Homo sapiens: one gene and its partners. The protein of the gene in region 2 interacts with the protein of the main gene of each other region in a pairwise test. Each region holds a gene or a part of one and is shown on either strand. Other genes may lie near its edges.

Region 1 (5,306 bases), on a different chromosome or scaffold from region 2:
GACTCTGTCTCAAAAATGACAACAACAACAAAAATCCCAAAAAGGAGAGGAAGGGAAAGAGATCACTCTGTCCTCTCACATGCACTGAGAGGCCATGAGCACACAGCGAGAAGGCAGCCACTTACAAGTCAGGAAGAGCACCCTCATCTGGAACTGAATTGGCTGGCACCTTGATCTTGGACTTCCCAGCCTCCAAAACTGTGAGAAATAAATGTCTATTGTTTAAGCCACTGTTTATGGTATTTTCAGATGAGCATGAAGCTCAGTAAAGGAAGCAACTTGCAACTGGGACTGGAAACCCTGCCCATTTTAACCCTGAACCAGAGTTCTCACAGTATGGTCTTGGTCACCTCCTGAATTCTGACCCCCAGGTGATTAATCACAAATCACCGTGCAGGTCCCTGGGCCCACCTGGCCTCATGAGGTGGGACCTGGCAGAGGAAGAATAATCCACTTTTTTTTTTCTATAGACAGGGTCTCAATCTGTTGCCCAGGTTGGATGCAGTGGTACAATCATGGCTCACTGCAGCCTTGAACTTCTGGGCTCAAGCGATCCTCCTGCCTCAGTTTCCTGAGTAGCTGGGACTACAGGTGTGCACCATCACGCCCAGCTAACTATTTTTTAATTTTTGTAGAGACAGAGTCTCACTATATTGCCCAGGCTGGTCTTGAACTCCTGGGCTCAAACAATCCTCCAGCCTCAGCCTCCCAAAGTGCTAGGATTACAGGTGTGAGCCACAGTGCCCAGCCTGGAATCTGCATTTTAACCAGTGTCTCAGCTGGCCATTGTGTTGGGGTCTCCCTATTTGCCTCCACTTCCTGTCTTCCTTCCCCTAGACTGCGGACACCTTAGGACACGGCTGGGCTGAGGATGACCCTTTGTGTCCCTGGAGCCTGGTGTGTACCTGGCACATGGTTTGTACTCAACACCCAGAACTTTCCAAATGTCAGCCACAGGATCCTTTTCTCATCCCAAACTCAGGTGACCTAGAAAAATACAGGAGTTTGGGGGAGGTCTGCTCAAAGGTGGGATGGAGAAGAGGTGGCTGGGCCAGTAAGTGGAGCCAGAGACAAGGAAAGGGGTTAGGGGTTGTCCACACCTGGTGCAGGGCGTCTGCCTTGTCTGTGTGCTTCTGCCGGCTTCGCTGGGCGGCTGCCCGGTTCTTCTGCTTCTTCAGCTGCCTTTGTTGCTCCTTGGGGTCCTGTGGGGCATGAGGCAGAGGACTCAGGGGGCCCAGCCAGGCCTTGTGCCCTCCGTCCTGGCCCGCCATTTGTAAAGCCAAGTCTTTCCCCTTGAGTCAAGTTCCCAAGGGTCTTTTATCTCCCAGAAGCTCCCTTGGCACCCACACCCCCTATAGCAGGCACTGCACACCTTGTTGGAACGCCAGCCTCACCCCTGTGTCCTGCTCACCGCTCATGTGGAGGGTGGGAGGGCAAGCAGGGAAGATGGGAAGCCTGAGATTCAAACTCAGACAGAGCCAACTTCAAACCCCACATTCTTTTTTCCTTTTTTTTTGAGACAGAGTCTCACTCTGTTGCCCAGGCTGGAGTAGTGCAGCGGCTCTATCTTGGCTCACTGCAAACTCTGACTCCCGGGTTCAAGCAATTCTCCTGCCTCGGCCTCCCAAGTAGCTGGGACTACAGGCACCTGCCACCATTCCTGGCCAATTTTTGTATTTTTAGTAGAGATGGGGTTTCCTCATGTTGGCCAGGCTCATCTCAAACTGGTCTTGAACTCCTGACCTCAGGTGATTCACCAGCCTCGGCCTCCCAAAGTGCTGGGATTACAGGTGTGAGCCACCGTGCCCAGCCGAGCCCCATATTCTTGAACCCAATCGCCCCATCCCTGCAATGGAAGCACCACAGCAGAGGGTTAAAGCCCATGCGGCAGGCAGCCCAGAGCCGGCGTGCCATAAAGCTCAGCTTCCATTCTTCTCATTGCCATGATTTCCACACCAAGGTGTGAACTTTCCTAACTGTGAGCTCCATGAGGGCAGATGTGGTTCTCTGTGCTCATGCCCAGCTCAAGCCCAAAGCAGATATTCACTTACTCAACAAACATGTATAAGCACCTACTATGTTCCAGGCAGTAAGCTAGAGGGACATGATAGCAAACAAAATACACACAAATCCCTGCCCTGAAATTGCTCACATTGTAGTGGGGTGGTAGCGAAGGATGAATGAATGAAGGGTTTATTCCGGTGGAAGAGTGGACTCAAAGGTTGTGACCACCTTGTACCCTGGGATCAATGAAACTTAGATAAAATATTTTACCCAAATGTCCAGAGCTCTGCAAAGTCAGAGCAAGAGGGACTGTTGGAGAGCTCACAGCCCAGCCCCCGCCCCCAAGTCTCTCTGGGGTATGTGTTTTGAGGGTAAGGACCTCAGGCAAGGCCCTGGCCGCCCTGGCTGCAGATTCTGAATGCTCCTAGGCTCCTGCTCCATATGCTCCCTTGGGCCATGTCCACAGCGGGCTCACTGTAGACACTGGGGCACCAAGAAACTAAAGGCTGAGACAGGACCCACGGTGAGTGAAGGGGGCTCCTGTGAGATAAGCAGAGCCTCCAAGGGAAACCATGGCCCAGGGAATTTATTTATTATTTTACTTTATTTTATTTTATTTTATTTTATTGAGACAGAGTCTCTGTCGCCCAGGCTGGAGTGCAGTGGCGTGATCTTGGCTCACTGCGACCTCCGCCTCCCAGGTTCAAGTGATTCTCCTGCCTCAGCCTCCTGAGAAGCTGGGATTACAGGCATGTGCCTCCACCACGCCCAGCTAATTTTTCTATTTTTAATAGAGACGGGGTTTCACCATGTTGGCCAGGATGGTCTCGATCTCCTGACCTCAGGTGATCTGCCCGCCTCAGCCTCCCAAAGTGCTGGGATTACAGGTGTGAGCCACTGAGCCCGGCCTATTTTATTTTATTGAGACAGAGTCTCTCTCTGTCACCCAGGCTGGAGTGCAGTGACATGAGCTCAGCTTACTGCAACCTCCATCTCCCGGGTTCAAGCAACTTTCCTGCCTCAGCCTCTCGAGTAGCTGAGACTACAGACGTGCCCTGCCACACCTGGCTAATTTTTGTATTTCTAGTAGAGACGGGGTTTCGCCATGTTGGCCAGGCTGATCTTGAACTCCTAACCTCATGTTATCTGCCGGCCTCAGACTCCCAAGGGGCTGGGATTACAGGCATGAGCCGGCCTGGGTTATTTGGAGAAGGAAGGAAAGGCTGCTGTGAGTGTAGTGAGGGGGGACCAGGTACGTTAGGAGAGAGCAAGTACACAGAGGCCAAGTTCTAAACCGAAGGCTGGATCTGCAATGTGAGAGCTGGAAACAACTCATTCCAATCCAATCCCGACTTCGGGGGAGGAAAGTGAGACCCAGAGAGGGGCATGCAGAGCCCTCTGTCACACTGCTCAGAGTATAGAGCTGGGACTAGGAGCTCCCGACTGCAGCCCTCACTGCCTGGGCACTGAGGACGGGATCCCAGCTCCCCTTCTCATCCCCGATCCCCAATCCCCTGTACTCACTGTCTGGGTCAGCAGCCCATTGCCCCCACAGAGGTGCATGGCTTAGGCGGGGGAGCAGAGTGGTCCCTCAGCAGCTGTGACTTCCCAGTGCCCTCTGGAGGCCTAAGGAAGTGGCAGCTCTTTAAATCCCCAGTGGCCACTCCGCCCCCAGAGGGCCAAGTTTCAGTTTCTCCTAAAGCCACCAGCTGCTCAGAATCCCTGGCTCAGGCTTGCTCACGTGGCTAGAATTTCCTAACATGAACTGGCCTTCCGGTTGGGCCCCTTCTCTGGAAAGAGGATGGTGGAGGGTGGAGAGGAGGGAAGACCAAAGGCCAGGTATGAGGAGGGTGTTCTAGGGGAGGGAGGACAGGCGGCCAGGGACTGAGATGAGAGAAGAAGCCAGTGGGGACCGATGCTCATGTGGGGTAGAGAGAGCCCTTGAGCTCTGGAATTGGGGGAACTCTGGATCACAGCACACATTGGAGCTGTCCAACTTTCAGAAAGTGACTCTCCTTCTCTGAGCCCTAGTTTTCTCATCTGGAGGATGGTACAACTACCCACTCCCAGGCTCATTGCAGGAACTAAGCCAGATAATACAACCACCCCCAAACCTTCTGAGACCACTATGGAAGCATGTCTGCAAAATTAAGCAATGGCTGTTGGATAGAACAGATGGATACATTACTGTTTTCATACAACAGACCATGAAGCAGTGGAAAGATTGATGTCCAGTGGTTAGGAGCCCAGCTTCCAAGCTATGTGACTTGGGTTCGTAATTTCATCTGTGTTTCTGTTTCCAAATCTGTAAAGTGGGGATAAAAACAATTTTGTTAGGCCAGATGCAGTGGTTCATGCCTGTAATCCAAGTACTCTGGGAGGCCAAGGCAGGAGGATTACTTGAGCTCAGGAGTTTGAGACCAGCCTGGGCAACATAGCAAGACCTTATCTATATTAAAAATAAAAAAAATAACTGGGCATGGTGGCACACACCTGTATTCCCAGTTACTCAGGAGGCTGAGATGAGAGGATCACTTGAGCCCAGGAGTTCAAGGCTGCAGTGAGCTATAATCTTGCCACTGCACTCCAGCCTGGGCAATAGAGCAAGACCTTGTTTCAAAAAAATTAATTAATTAAAAATTAAAAAATAAAGACCTAGCAAACCCTGAAGCCCCGGGCATACCTGCATGCTTGTTGTATCTCTAAGAGGGACACTTGGATGGGGCATCTGTTTGGGGGCCAGAGGGGCCAGTAATTCCTGTCCAAGAACAGCATGCATGCAGTATGTAGAGTCCTATGGTCTGGTGACTAGAGCATCTTGGAGTTGTACCTGAGACCTGAGGGCTCATGGCTGATGATGTGGTATCACAAGAATGGCAAATACAGATATGATCTTCTGATAGGTGATGGTGGCTGGAATGTTGTTTTAAAGAGTTCATGGACACCTCTGAGCTTAGTAAAAAAGAGTACTGCAGTTGATTAGCAATGTCTGCCACACCATGATCGATTAGTGATGCCTGTTATGGGCAGAGGTGTGGAGAGTGCAGTCCCCTGCTATCCCTAGAACCAGGCATAAAACAAGTCTGGGTTTCAGAGACAAAAGACTTGACTCTCCATCCTGGCACTCCACTCACCCAGTTTATCACCTGGAGCCTCAGTGTCTTCAAAGATATGCTGGTGATCACAAAGAAATGATACCTATTTGACAGTTGTTTTGAAGATGGGAAAGAATGAGATGAGAAGAAAGCTCTTGGGATATTGTAAAGTACTATGTGGCAAGGATTCCCCCTCCTGAAATTTGT
Region 2 (5,461 bases):
CAGGGGCCTGGCCGGGTGGAGGGTGCAGGGCGGTGGGGCAGTGTAGAAGGCAGGGCCGGGACCTGAGGCCGGGCTGGGGCAGGCGGGCTGGGGCCTTTATCATTCGGATGGAAGGGGGAGGGGAGGGAAGGGAGGAAGAGGCTGTGGGGGAGGGGAGCATGCCGAGGGCTTCCACAATTAGCAGGTTTTGGTTAATCTGGAAGGGAGGGGCAGAGAGCATTCTAGTGGGGGCTTCTCCTGAGGCCTCAGTCTCCACCCCTGAGTTGCCTTTGGGTGGCCAGGCCCGGCTTCAAAGGGGCTGCGATGACCCATGGCTACTTTATCCCGTCTTCCCTGGTCAGGTTTCAGGACCCCATTTAACAAATGGGGGAGTATTTAGCCCATGCCAAGCTCCCAAGGCGTGGGGCGCTCCTGGAGTTCAAGATCTAGCAGCTGCTAGTAGGCCCTGAACTATGGGGGCTGGATATCCACCCAGGACATGATCAGGTGGAGCTTCCTGGAGGAGAAGGCCATGAAGCCCGCACCCTAGGAACAAGAGGGGGACACATTGACTCAACTGATTTCCTGGGAGTTGCTTCAGGAGCCCAGGTGGACCGCTCACCTCCTCCTCCCTAGCCATCTCTGCTCCTCCACCCAAGCAAGGCTGGTATTGTGTATCCTGCCCCAAAGCCCAGGTTCTCCTCCCTCACAAGGGGCAAGTTTGCCCAAGAGGATAGCAGCTCTGGGAATTAGCAGCGGTGGTTGGTGCTGGCACCAGGCCAAGGGCCCCCAGACACACGGGGGCCCAGGGATATGCTTTTGCCCTTCACTCTGAGAATTCAGCTTTTCTTGTGCAGCCTCCACCATGATAACCTCAAAGGGCTGAAAATCTGCAGCATACGGTGGGGTCCAGCACACCCTGAGGTGTGGAGGGGAGGGACAGGCAGCAAGTGTCCAGGAGGAGGAGGCCTGGGCCGCAAGGGGCCTTGTATGTGGGGTACCACACTGCTCCTGCCCCCCACACCCCCGGTCGGGTGGTGCCCCTTTTCCTTCTATCTCTGACTCTCCCCTCAGACGCCACGTGGTTTCCCTCAGGACTCCTGCCACCACCTCTCTGCTGTGTTCCCTAGGTTATGGCTGCACAATCCTGTGCCTCATGAGGCTAATACTTGTGGCCACTTCACCCCATTCGGTCAGCAAGGCGTCGTTCTTTCCTACAAGTGTTTGTTGTTGTTGTTGTTTTGAGACAAGGTCTCACTCTGTTGCCCAGGCTGGAGTGCAGTGGTGCGATCTGGGCCCCGTGCAGCCTCCACCTCCCCCGCTAGGGCGATCCTCCCGACTCAGCGTCCCGGGACTACAGGCGTGCGCCACAGAGCCCAGCTAATTTCTTAATTTTTGGTAGGGACCGGGCCTGCCTATGTTGCTCAGGTTGGTCTCCCGGGCTCAAGTGACCCACTGGCCTCGGCCTCCTCCCAAAGTGCTGGGATCACAGACGTGAGCCACCGGGCCGGGCCTTTCCCATAATTTTTTTTTTTTTTTTGAGACGGAGTCTCACTCTGCCGCCCAGGCTGGAGTGCAGTGGCGTGATCTCGGCTCACTGCAAGCTCCGCTTCCCGGGTTCATGCCATTCTCCTGCCTCAGCCTCCCGAGTAGCTGGGACTACAGGCGCCCACCACCACGCCCGGCTAATTTTTTTGTATTTTTAGTGGAGACGGGGTTTCATCAGGTTAGCTAGGATGGTCTCGATTTCCTGACCTCGTGATCTGCCCGCCTCGGCCTCCCAAAGTGCTGGGATTACAGGCGTGAGACACCGCGCCCGGTCTCCCGTAAGTTTTAAGGCACCCCCCTCTCCACTGGCGCTTCCTTGGTGGGGCGCTGGAGGCTCCCCAAGTTCTGACCGCTCTTCTCCGACCGCACTGTCCTGGGCCCGAAACCACCCCCAAAGCTGCCACCCATTCCGCTGGCGCCCGTCCCGTTGCCCGCGATGACTCGGTTTTGTCCAGCATAAATCAATGACCACCGTCCCGGGAGCCTTGGAGCACTTTGAGCCATTCCCGTCCCACCCACGCCCCAAGGAGGTCCCAGCCGCGGAGGACTCGCCCGGCCGCCCGCAGCTGTCCGCGTTGGCCCCCACCCCCGACCGTCCCTCCCCAGGCCCCGCCCCCGACATTTCCTCCTCCCAGGCTCCGCCCCCGGCTCCCACGGGGCACCGCGGCTTCCGGCTATGGGTACCGCGGGCCGGAAGTGTAGCGTTGCCATGGCGAGGGCCGGGTGCGGGGCCCGCCCCCGCAGCGCCTCAGGGAGCGCGGGGCCCACTGACCCGCGGAAGCCAGCGGACCCACTTGTGCGGCGGTCGGCGCGGGGCGCGAGGTGAGGCGCGGACTCCCGGGTCCTGCGGCGGGAGCGGAGCGAGGGAGAGGGGCCCCGGCCAGGGAGAGCAGTGGCGGGCCCGGGAAGGAGGGGCACTGGGTCGACACCGAGAGAGGAGGCCGGGCCGGGGAAGGATGAGGCAGAGGAGAGGGAGGAGGCCGGGAAGGGCGGGAGGAGGAGGAGACCGAAGGGAGAGAGGAGGCTGGCGACGGAGGAGGCCGGGGAGGGGCCCTCGGGAGACGCGGCTGCCGGCACGCGGGCGCCCAGGGCACAGGTCCCGCCGGGCCGCCTTGGGCGTTGCTGGCTGAGGCCCAGGGCAGCAGGTGCCAACGGTCAGGAAAGGCAGGGAGCCGAAGGCTGCCGGTGGGCGCTTCGCGTTTTGTTCCAAGGCGAAGGTGTGTGGATTCTCCGCAGCCCGTCGGTCAGGTAGACAGCTCCGGAATTGTCTTCATTTTCAGATGAGGAAATCGAGGCCGCAGAGAAGGGACTTACCCAAACTTAAGCTTTGTGTGGGCCTTGGAGCTAGGCTGAAGGAGAAAGTGGAGTCTCACTGGGGCAAGTTCCTTCAACTTTCAGGGATTCAAATGACCTCACTTGTAGTGCGGGGCGTCCGGACCACCCCTCAGGAATTGGGATCAGGGCAAGAATTACTAACTAAGCAAGCACCCCGCCTGGGAGGGAGCGTCCAGGACTGGTGTGGGCCCCTGTCTGTACCAGAGCGGAGGCCCGGGGCACGGTGGGATTAATTTCCATGGGTGCAGAGAGGGGAGCCGTGTACGGAGTCATTCTAGGCTTAGGGGAGACAGAGCAAAGTTAGCCTTCCCCAAACCTCTGTGCCTTCCTTTTCTTCCTGGATTCCTACCTGGGGGTGGAGGTGGAGGCGGGGGTACCGCTGCCTTTCTCAAAGTGTGTCTAGTCCAGCAGTGAGCCCTCCTGGGCGTCTTGGCGCCCCAGTTGCTTCCTGGACGTATTGGGGTTTCTCTGGGAGAAGGGTCTTGCCTGCAGTACCCTGGGCCTCCTGAAGAGGCCTCTGGTTGCGCTGCCTGATTCAGGGACCCAGAGCCACGACTCGCCGAGAGGAGCTCCGGCGGCGTGCGGCTGGGTTGCCTGAGGGGCTGGGGGCTGCCTGGTGGACTTGCACACATGCTGGCTCCATACCTGTCACTGTGGTGGACGCTCAGAGCTCTACAGGGCCAGCTGCCTGCCCCTGCCCCAAGTCCCCCGGGCTGGGGTTGGGATGGGGGTGGCTTTAGGGGGTCCTTCCCCCTCCTGGTGCTCGAGCTGGATTTCCTCCCTGTTGGCTGGGGCCATCCCTCGTGTCTCTGATTGGCCTGTCCTGGCCTCATCCCTCACCTGCTTGGGATGCACTTGGACTCTGCTTTGCCCCGAGGGTTGCCTGGGCTGGCACCTAGCAAGGGGGCTCCTCCTGTATGACTGTACTTTGGGGTCTGTGTTCTAGGGATTCTTGAACCTCTGGTCTGAATGAACAGCCGATTGATACAGCTCTCCACTGCATGCAGCTTAGGAACCTCAGTCTCAGGTGACCCCACAGACTACCAGCACCCCCAGCTCCACCCTTGCTCTTCCCCGAGCGTGTCCTAACCCTAGCACTTGTGCCACATCTATCCATTGGCCAAAATGAGAACTGGGTGGCAGTTCCAGGCCCTTCTTTCATGCCGAGGCTCTCCTGGCACTGGTGCACGCACACCTAAAGGGAGGCCTTTTCATCAGACTTGCTCAGCCAGGAGCTCAGAGCCTTCCATGTCACATCCTGTGCTGGGACCCCTGTGCCAGAGGCTCAGCAGCTGTTCACTTGTTCAGCTCACTGCACTTACTGAGTGCTGCCTATGAGTCAGGAACTGGCCAAGTTCTTAGGATGCAACAGGGAAACAAACAGTAACTGGCATGTCAAGAATTAAAACAAGGTGATGAGATAAGAGAATGACAAGGTAACCACAGAAGATCTCTGAGGAGGTTGCACTTAAGATGTGATCCGAGTCCCACAAAGGAGCATGCTGTCCTAAGATCCGGTGGAAGAACTTTCCAGACAGAAGGAGCAGCTGATGAAGGTGGCGGTGATGATGAAGCTGGTAGCACCAAATAAATGTGCTAGACCAGGGGTTGGCCAGCTTTTACTGTGAAGGGCTAGGCAGCAAACATTTTAGGCTTTGCTGACCATGTGGCTTTCTGTTTTTTTGTTTGTTTGAGATGGAGTCTCACTCTGTCGCCCAGACTGGAGTGCGGTTGCACAATCTCCACTCACTGCAACCTCTGCCTCCCGCGTTCAAATGATTTTCCTGCCTCAGCCTCCCCAGTAGCTGGGATTACAGGCACATGCTACCATGCCAGTTAATTTTTATATCTTTTTTTTTTTTTTTGAGACAGAGTCTTGCTCTGTAGCCAGGCTGCAGTGCAGTGGTGCAATCTCAGCTCACTGCAACCTCCGTCTCTCGAATTCAAGTGATTCTCCTGCCTCAGCCTCCCAAGTAGCTGGGACTACAGGCGCATGCCACCACGGCCAGTAATTTTTGTACTTTTAGTAGAGATGGGATTTCACCGTGTTGGCCAGAATGGTCTCGAACTCCTGACCTCATTATCCTCCTGCCTTGGCCTCCCGAAGTGCGGGGATTACAGGCGTGAGCCACTGTGCCCAGCCCATGCTTTGATTTTTTACATCAAACTTTATTGAGGTGTAACTTACAGTAAGATGCACCTATTTTAATGGGTTTTGTGTGATGGGTTTTGTTTAATGGGTTTTGTTTGATGGGTTTTTTTTTTTGACGGAGTCTCATGCTGTGTCGCCCAGGCTGGAGTGCAGTGGCACGATCTTGGCTCACTGCAAGCTCCGCCTCCTGGGTTCACACCATTCTCCTGCCTCAGCCTCCCAAGTAGCTGGGACTACAGGCGCCCACCACCACGCCCGGCTAATTTTTTGTATTTTTTTAGTAGAGTCGGGGTTTCACCATGTTAGCCAGGATGGTCTCGATCTCCTGACCTCGTGATCCGCCCGCCTCGGCCTCCCAAAGTGCTGGGATTACAGGCGTGACCACCGCGCCCGGCCTGTTTGATGGGTTTTGTGAACAACGTCATAATCCAAATATAAAACATTTCC
Region 3 (4,709 bases), on a different chromosome or scaffold from region 2:
AAAAAACAATTCTTGAAAGAAAGAAAGACTGTAGACAGGTGATACAAAGGGAAGATTCTACCTCTGAGTCTGAGGATGACTCTCGGGATGAGAGCCAGGAGAGTTCAGATGCTTTGCTGAAAAGGACCATGAACATCAAGGAGAACAAAGCCATGGTGAGGCTTCACGGAGGGCGTCCTGGGAGTTGGCACCAGGCTCTGGCAGCAGTTGCTGGGCTCCCAGAACCACTTTGCTCCTACAGCTGCTGCTGTTGCTTTGGCTTCTGTCAAGAAAATATACTCTGGGTATTGTGTATCCTTTTACTTTTCCAGAACCCAGAGCAACTATTACATGATCAGCTCTGGTTTGGGAACAGAAAGAGATTCCCCAGCACCATTTTTAGCCCCTACATGGTGCCATAATGCTGCTTACTGTTGACCAAGCTAAGTTCTAAGTATATAGTTGTGTTGGGGATGAGAGGGGCTGAACAACTAGCCCGTTCCCAGCAGAGTAAAGCAGGGGAAGTGGGATGTCACCAAGTCCACTGAGAAGTTGCAAGGAGCAGGTTGGGCAGGTAGCTTTTCACCACAGAACCACTCTTCTATGGTGACCAGCACTGGTTCTGAGACTTCTGAAGGAATGGAAGAGGTCTAGGAATTAAAACAACCTCAACAGTGTTAATTCACTCTACATTGTCTTCATTAGAACAATGAATGGAACCAGGTGAAATCTTTGTTACATATATTTGGTTTTTCTGTATATAATCAATTACTGTTAATCTGATCATTGTAGAGAATCATTGTTTGCTTCATAATTGTTTATCTACAGTTTTTTTTTAAATAGTTCTACCACTTATCCCTTTTAGCATTTTGGTAATTTTTTAATCTTTTCCTTTTAAAAAAAGAATGATGCAGTGATACTGTATATGCAAGCTTATATGTCTAATATAAATTACTTACAAAAATGGAATGCCTACTTTCGGATTATTTTTATCCTAAGAAACATTTTTACTTAGCTAAGGGAAATTTTCAGCACTGTATCCATCTGCATCTTTAAAATAAGCTATTTTCTTTATGATTTTTTTGGTGGCACTCATATAATTGTATAAACTAAAACGAATCCTAATTAAATTCTCTGGCATATTAATGCCTATTATTTGGTATTATTAGTTCACGTAGGAATATCTTCATAGATTACTTTGATTGATGAGAAATTAATCTATTTAAAGAATCAGACTTTTGGAGTTCTAAATAACCATCGAAATAATCTAGTTGAGCTTTTTCTTTTTTGAACATCCTGAAACTTGAGACTCACGTGTGCAAAATGAATTGTCCCAGGGTCACACCGCCTTGGATTAGCCTCCGAGTCGGGATCGGAACCTCATGCTCCAGGTCTTGATCATTCCAGGACTGTTTTCATAGTGTTGTGTTGTCCTTATATATAAGGAATAGGCTAGTGTTCATTCATATGAATGATGACATCAGCATCTCAGGTCTGGAGGTACAATCTTTACATGTGAGGTTAAAAGTATAACTGTTGTGGGTTATATAAACTATTCAAGTTAGGTTTCTTATGGTGGCAAAATGGAAGACTTGAGATAGGTGTTGGATGACCTAAACCTGGAGCCCTATTTTTGTAAGATTCTTTCTTTTGTTCTGAACTTCAGCTTGCCCAGTTATTGGCGGAATTGAACTCGATGCCAGATTTCTTCCCAGTACGAACCCCAACCTCAGCTTCTGTAAGTAGAACTCCTTATAATTATACCAATACTGATATATGGTGATCAGCCACCAGACGGCTTTTATTCGAGAGAGTCCCCAGTTGTCTCTGTCTGTGCTCTTGATTTCAGAGGAAGAAGACAGTGAGGCGGGCCTTCTCGGAGGGACAGATCACGCGGCGTATGAACCCAACCCGGAGTGCGCGGCCTCCTGAGAAGTTTGCTCTAGAGAACTTCACTGTCTCAGCCGCTAAATTTGCGGAAGAGTTTTACAGCTTCCGAAGAAGGAAGACAATTGGGGTATTTTCTGACTAATACATGAATTAGTTTTTGTCTGAGCTACCATCCCTCCAAACGTGAACGCACGTCACTGTCACCCCAGGGCTGGTTCTGACCCCGTGGGTCTGCGGCAGCTGAGAACTTGCATTTCTCTCTGCTTCCCAGGTGATGCCATTGCTCCTGAGATCACACTTTGAGAAGCAGCCCTGGTCTAAGCTGGAGGTCACAGAGAGAGTCTTTTATCCAAGCCGAGCTGAGAAGCAGCTCATTTGTTAGGACCCTGCTTTAATCTCTGCTGCAGGCAATAAAGAAAAGTGCAGTGATTCCTCCTTGCCTTTCTGTTTTAGGCATGAGGCGTTTCAAGCGCTTTCAGTTTGGAGGGAGCAACTGTGGACCCATTTGTGGGTTTGGCTGTTCAGTGTGGTTCACCTCTCCACAGAGTTTACAGCAAAGAACCAAAAACCTTGAGTTCCTCCTTTATGATTGTATCGCCTTGCTGAGAAGGAAGCTTGGCAGGTGGCAGGAGCTCAGTAAATAACTAAATGAAATGGCTGCAGGGAAATAGAAGAGGGACGGGGTTAACATTAATGGTGCTAGATCTTTGAGAGTTTAAAATATTTATAATTTTTTTATAACTGCTCAACACATCTCCATGTTCTGCTTGTGTTCATTGTGCAGGGGAAATGCCGGGAGTACAGACGACGTCACCGTATATCTTCTTTTCGGCCAGTGGAGGATATCACCGAAGAGGACTTAGAAAATGTTGCCATAACTGTTCGAGATAAAATCTATGATAAAGTTCTGGTAAAGTATACATTAATTGTCATTCTTATTGGGAGTCGAAGGCATTGGTATTGAAATCTCACTTGTTTTTAAACTCTATCAGGGCTTATGCCATCTCACCAAGGGCTCAGAGCCAGGCTCTGAATTGGAGGGTCAAAAGTCAGCTGTACCTGGGAAAGGGGAGGCAGCCTAGTGCAGTAATTCCCATCTGGACGGCGGTCTCTCTTAGGGATGCGTAGAATCTGGGGGAAGGGAACGGTATAGTTTAAAAGGGATTTTTATATGTAACTGTTAATGGTTTAAGCATATAGTTTTATGTTCTAAATATTGAAAAAAGTATATTTGGGGGGTAATATAACCATAGAAATTAAAGTTTGGCAGAATATCTTTGGTAGGAAATGGGTTAAATTTCTTCTAAATGGTGATTTAGAGGGAGGCTTTGCGTTCTGCATTTTTTTTGTGTTTTTCTGGATATGTAACGGGACACTGTCAAGTTTTAAATTTAGTTGCCAATATTTAAAAAAAAATAGATCTCACATTGAAGGTATCCAGGTCTGCAGAGCTAGGCTGGGGCCGAGGTGATGCCACCCAAGGCTCATTGCCCCTCAGTCACCTGTCACCTTTCAGGGGCTCTGCCACCCCTGCCTCAAGCTTTTCTCTGGTCTCTCTTCCTGACAGCCTGATCATTTCATTCCTTCTGGGTCTCTGCTCAGCCTCATCTGACCTAATATGTTTCTCTGGCCACAGACCTGTGATGGTTACATTCTAGAGCAGTGGTCCCCAACCTTTTTGGCACCAGGGACTGGTTTTGTGAAAGACAGTTTTTCCATGGATTTGGGGGGCAGGAAGGGGATGGTTTCAGGATGAAACTGTTCCACCTCAGATCATCGGGCATTAGATTCTTATAAAGGGTGCACAACCTAGATCCCTCACATGTGCAATTCACAATAGAGGGTTTGTGCTCCTATGAGAATCTAATGCTGCTGCTGATCTGACAGGAGGCAGAGCTCAGGCGGTAATGCTCGCCCGTCCGCTGCTCACTTCCTGCTGTGCAGCCCGGTTCCAAACAGGCCACAGACTGGTTCTAGCCTGGGGGCTGGGGACCCCGGTCTAGAGACAATGCTGTGGTTCTTAGGAAAACAGTCCTGCTTGATTCGAGGAGACGGGGGTATTTCTTCATATACTTGGAAATGCACATGGTGGCATCTGGCCTCATTGGGCATCAGCATATCCCTGTGTTCACCTGCTCACTGCCTTCCCCCTGTAGGGTAACACGTGCCATCAGTGTCGACAAAAGACCATCGACACCAAGACAGTGTGTCGGAACCAGGGTTGCTGTGGTGTGCGAGGACAGTTCTGTGGACCATGCCTGCGGAACCGCTATGGGGAGGATGTCAGATCGGCATTGCTGGACCCGGTAGGAACAGTGTTTGCATTTGTTGTAAATTGTATTGGTGAAGGAAGCAAGCTATAAAGATGGGCCTCCTGGGTTCTCACTGGGAACTAGGGAGCTCCAGAACTCTGGTTTTTCCCTTCCATTTGTATCTTAAGGCTCCAGGGAAAATGAAAAATAGGGATTCCTTCTGGAAGGAGAGCAAGCTGACCAGTGAATAGAAGAATTAATGTTGTTAGATTTTCCATTGTCAGAGCAAAACTTGCTTACAGTCCTCTAGTTTTATGCAAGTAATCCCTGTACCTGTCCTTCAGCAAAGTGATTTCCCTCTGATTTGTTTTGTTTTTCCTGGGCCAGGCTGAGAGGGAGGTGGAGATTGCAGTATAGAGTGCTCTCTGTGTGCCTGGCACTGTGCAAGCTGTCGCTCACTCTGTTACCATAAATTTGTTTAATCCCATGAAATAGGTGTATAACCTCTCTCAGCTCCCTCGGTAAAATGAGACATAGTATCATGGTGAGTAGGCACGACCTTGAGCCTGGGGCAGTCCTGCTCCCGAG
Region 4 (4,709 bases), on a different chromosome or scaffold from region 2:
TAAAATGAGGACAGTGGTGGTCATTCCTTTTTCATTCAATGCTCATTCAGAAACTTGATAAGAAGTATTTTACATATATTCTCATTTAATTCTCACAGTTCTATGAGGTAGCTACCCTAATTATCTCCTTTTTATAGTTGAGGAAATTGAGGTACAGAGAGATTAAGAAACTTGCCTAAGGTCACTGAGTTAGTAAGGGGTGGAGCTGGAATTTGAATCTGTGTGCTTCATTCCAAAGCCCACTCTCTTAACCATAATGCTGTGGAGTCCGAGACAGACTAGTACGATCAGCCCAGTAAGGATGGTGTGTGAATACGTGTCCTTAATCTAAGTACTGCTGTAGTCCAGAGAGAGGAGAAGGGAGAAGTTAGTCACTGGGCGAGGCAATTGGAGCATGTACACTTAGGACTAGGACTTGTCCCATGGGTAGATGTGTGGCCAATGAAGAAGAGTGGGTAGAGATATTCCAGGCAGGTGAGCTTGTGGGGGAGAGGTGAGGTCATGTGGGAGAGAAGATCGAGTCTATGGAAGGAGATTTTAGAATCACTGAACTTCTTTTATTTTGGTGTCTCCTAGATAGTTTTGTGCCAGAATAATATCCATAATCAGGCCCATATGAACAGAGTGGTCACACACGAGCTTATTCATGCATTTGATCATTGTCGTGCCCATGTCGACTGGTTCACCAACATCAGACATTTGGCGTGCTCAGAGGTGAGTTTTATTGTATTTTTCTCCAGAATACTCTATGCTTGAATATTTTATTCAAGTGTAATTTATTTAAATGTATTCCTTTTCTTACTGTCATAGTTCTACCTTAGTCTTGAATTTCGGTTTATAACTAACATTGAATACCATTTTTGATATACAGTTAGAGAAATTTAAAGTGTATTTTTAGAATTCTCTTAACTATATCCTGTAAGTCCTAGTAATAGTGATGACTGACTTTAATAAGCTATTAATTTTTTCCTATGGAATATATTTTATAATGTATTCCATAGGAGACATTAATAATAAAAATAAAAATAAAAAAATAATTAAAATTTACTGAGGGCTGTGTTCCAAACACTGTTCTGTTTGCACAGATTCTTATTTAATCTTCACAATAACCTACTGAGATAGATATTATACTATTATTGTCCCTGTTTTACATATGTGGAAAGTGAGACAGTTGTTTAGATTCCAAAGTTAGTAAGTGGTAGAGGCAGGATTACAACTAGTGTTTTTAACTAGCTTGCCCAGCTGCCTTCCATAGAGCTCCTTGCTTGCCCTAGAGTAAAACATGCTCTTTTCAAAAATACAACATAAAAAGATATTTATTACTAAGCACGTTGGATTGCTCTTGGAATATGCTCCTAGAGAGAGCGTATTCTGCATATGCATATACTTGGATGTCATTAATTGAAGAGTTAATTAAAATAATCTAAATCTCAAGCCTATACTATATAACTTCGATTATTTCCCTTTCTCTTGAAATTAATATGTAGCCCCCTGCATCTAATTATAATTCCAATTATTTGGAGAATAGACTGAAACCTGAATTTTTAAATAGGTCTCTTTCTTGGGTACTGTGAGAATTAATGCCTTTTAGCTAGTTAAAGTGTGTTAAGTACTTTGAGCTCCTCAGAGGAATGAGGCCATAATATTGAAGAAGGAACAAGAAGTGGGCCATTCTGTTAGCAATGAATTAGCAAAAATGTGGTCAAGCTGCCTGTAGAATCTATGTGGGTAGTTCTAAGACTTTTTCATTCATTGAAGTATAGTAAATCTGAAAATATGTCCTAATTTCAGGCTGTCATGCTCATAGCGTGACCAGTTTGGAATGTTCTTGATTCTTTGTGTTTTGTATTGCTTCATTTTTCATAGGACAATCAAGTCCCTAGAGGAAGGTCATGAACTTATATAGGTTTGAGGGAAGCTCCAAGGGAGATTCGGGCAAGGGTTGGGAGGGGCATATTCTCAAAGTGTCTCAGATATTAATGCATTCAGTTTTAAGGTCACATTGAAACTCAGTTTATTTCAAGAATGCTTTCTTGAAGTACTTTTGGCAATTTCTACAAGTATTTGTATCTTGTAGAGTGTGTAGTTTAACTCTGAGGTCTAGCTCTCTGACTTTTGGTTCCAAAAGAAATTAGTTCTGTCAGTAAAGCTACGCATAAAGTTTAGAAAATTTCCTTTGGTAGGCGATTGAACTTTTCCCCATCTCTCCAGTGTATTTGGCATTGTCTAGCATAGCTCATAGATATTTGCTCTCGTTGTCAATAGAGTTTAAAAAGTCCTTTAAGAAGAAGTGTCACAAATACTCTTTTCTCAGACAAAGATGCTAATTTTATATTCTTTTCTAATTTTTAAAAATTGGTTGATATCATAAAGATATATAGAGCATGAGCGTTTATTTCTTTTTATTTGTCTTCTGTGTGATAGGTTCGAGCTGCTAACCTTAGTGGAGACTGCTCACTTGTCAATGAAATATTCAGGTTACATTTTGGATTAAAACAACACCACCAGGTAAAAACTAATATGAAATCACTTCCCCTCCAGAGTGTTACGAGTGGAAATAATGAATAAAGAAATGAAAAGTACATTCAGTATTTGAAATTTGAAAGAACTTCGTATGTGAAAAGAATACAAAGTATGTACCATTTAAACAAAGTAGATGGAATTTAGTTCTACTTTGTAATTATGGGCAAGCTATGTGACTCAATGAGTGTGTGAGATAGTCTAATAATGAAAAGAGGCCTGGTGCGGTGGCTTATGCCTCCCAGCAGTTTGGGAGGCCGAGGCGGGCGGATCACGAGGTCAGGAGATCGAGACCAGCGTGGCCAACATGGTGAAACCCCGTGTCTACTAAAAATACAAAAAAATTAGCTGGGCGTAGTGGAGCACACCTGTAGTCCCAACTACTATGGAGGCTGAGGCAGGAGAATCACTTGAATCTGGGAGATGGAGGTTGCAGTGAGCCGAGATCATGCCACTGCACTCCAGTCTGGGCCACAGAGTGAGACTCCATCTCAAAAAAAAAAAAAAAAAAAAAGGAGCTAAGATCTTGCATCTGGGATACTTTTCGATGGGGGTGGATAAGGAATGGAAGTGAAATCACAGCATGTCTTACTGTTATTCTAACAATTCTTGACTTCTATTTTGAATCTACCATAGCATTCTGGAGACAAAAGATGTAATCCCTTTCAGAACAGAGAGTGTGTTGCTGCACAAGTTATGGCTATGTGTCAGTGTACCTGTAAAGGCTATATAATGTGATAGAAAACCTTTGGCTTAGCACAGACTTGAGTATGATGAGCTTAGCTGAGAGGGATTTGTGTGAACAAAACAAAAACAAAAAACAAAAGAGAGCTATAAGGCAAGATTATCCTGGTAGAAAGGCTTTGAGATCTGTATTAGGTGGACGTGGGGAAAGAAAGTATAGGACTCATGGATTGATAATGAATGTGAGCAGTTCTGCCTGGGCCTGTGTCCACATTTAGGAGAAAGGCTGGTCAGTCATTTTCTACAGTAAGAGCCTGCTGAGTCAGTTTGTGAAGTATATGAGCATCACGATATCAGTTCCAACTAGATGAAAAAAGATAGGCTTAGGACAACAGGAAGGCCCTTGGTTTTCTGGAGAAGAGAGTAACTCAACTCTGGAGTGGGGGGTGGAAAGTCACAGTGAGCTACTCAGAAATTGTGAACTTAGTGAATGGGAGGGAGAAGAAAAGCCTTCTGCCTGGAAAGGGTGATTACTCTAGACAGTGAGGTGTTCAGCCTCTGCCAGGTCAGCTTAGTGATATGCCAGTGACTTGTCTTGTGCTGCATGTTTTCTGTGCCCTTGAGTCCCTGCTTCTCTGGTGAATTCTGTGTGTTCTGGCTGTCAGTGGAGAGGGTGGAAGCAGGGTACACATCAGCACGCCCCTAGAGAAGAGAATAATGTGGTTAAAGCATGTGCTGGCATAGCTTATGGATATCTGCTCTTGTCAATAGAGTTTGAAAAATTCCTTAAAAAAAAAAACTATTACATATACTCTGTTTTTAGAAAAATATGCTAATTTTATATTCTTTTCCAATTAAAAAAAAATCAGTTGATATACTAAAGAAATAGAGCATGTTTTTTTTTTTTTTAATTCACCTTCTATCTTTGTGATAGGTTTGTGATGCACACAATCTTTGAAAGAGGAAGTTTTCCTCTTTTTACCATTGGGTAGCAGCAGCAGAAAACAAATAGAAACAGCAATAGGACAGAAAATAAGTGGAGGTAGTAGGAATCTGGCTGAGGGAGAAGAGTCTTAGAGAATGGAGTCCCTGCTTTTGTACAGCATGTACCCAGGAAATAGAAACAGCAAGTACAGTTACTGATTGTAAAATTGCATAGTCATATCTTTATTTTAACAGAAATTTATTATGTCTGAAAAGAAGTAAATCTGTGGTCTACACTTGTGTCTCCCAACCCTGTGGCTTCAGGAGACAAATTTTTGTACCTTTTTTCCCTGGAGGGGAGAAATTTCCTCTCTTTTTAGCAACTGTTGTTTTGGCTTCACATGGTTCTTCCTTTTCTTGTTCCTTTATGCCTGGGGTTTATTTTTTAAAATCAGCGTTTAGTAAAATTCAGGTTGAGAAACACTATATTCCAATGTTAGTGAATATCTCCAGCTTGAGCACACTGACCAGGCCAATGAAAAACTGGGAACATGTGGAGAAAACGGATGGCTGTCAGGATG

The links.
Region 1: the proteins of PPP1R16A (region 2) and BATF2 interact in binary tests that used the Homo sapiens proteins (3 or more experiments, as listed by UniProt).
Region 3: the proteins of PPP1R16A (region 2) and CDCA7L interact in binary tests that used the Homo sapiens proteins (3 or more experiments, as listed by UniProt).
Region 4: the proteins of PPP1R16A (region 2) and ATP23 interact in binary tests that used the Homo sapiens proteins (3 or more experiments, as listed by UniProt).

What each region holds. Positions count from the first base shown.
Region 1 is NC_000011.10:64,993,348-64,998,653, forward strand, and holds the start of BATF2 (basic leucine zipper transcriptional factor ATF-like 2), read right to left. Parts: upstream 3,625-5,306; 5' UTR 3,568-3,624; coding exon 3,529-3,567; intron 1,203-3,528; coding exon 1,101-1,202; intron 1-1,100.
Region 2 is NC_000008.11:144,475,779-144,481,239, forward strand, and holds the start of PPP1R16A (protein phosphatase 1 regulatory subunit 16A), read left to right. Parts: upstream 1-2,203; 5' UTR 2,204-2,349; intron 2,350-2,572; exon of another isoform or gene 2,573-2,775; intron 2,776-2,807; exon of another isoform or gene 2,808-2,904; intron 2,905-5,461. UniProt on the Homo sapiens protein: Inhibits protein phosphatase 1 activity toward phosphorylase, myosin light chain and myosin substrates.
Region 3 is NC_000007.14:21,903,576-21,908,284, reverse strand, and holds part of CDCA7L (cell division cycle-associated 7-like protein), read left to right. Parts: coding exon 1-155; intron 156-1,645; coding exon 1,646-1,717; intron 1,718-1,828; coding exon 1,829-1,996; intron 1,997-2,653; coding exon 2,654-2,779; intron 2,780-4,025; coding exon 4,026-4,175; intron 4,176-4,709. UniProt on the Homo sapiens protein: Plays a role in transcriptional regulation as a repressor that inhibits monoamine oxidase A (MAOA) activity and gene expression by binding to the promoter.
Region 4 is NC_000012.12:57,951,182-57,955,890, forward strand, and holds part of ATP23 (mitochondrial inner membrane protease ATP23 homolog), read left to right. Parts: intron 1-576; coding exon 577-714; intron 715-2,424; coding exon 2,425-2,508; intron 2,509-4,709.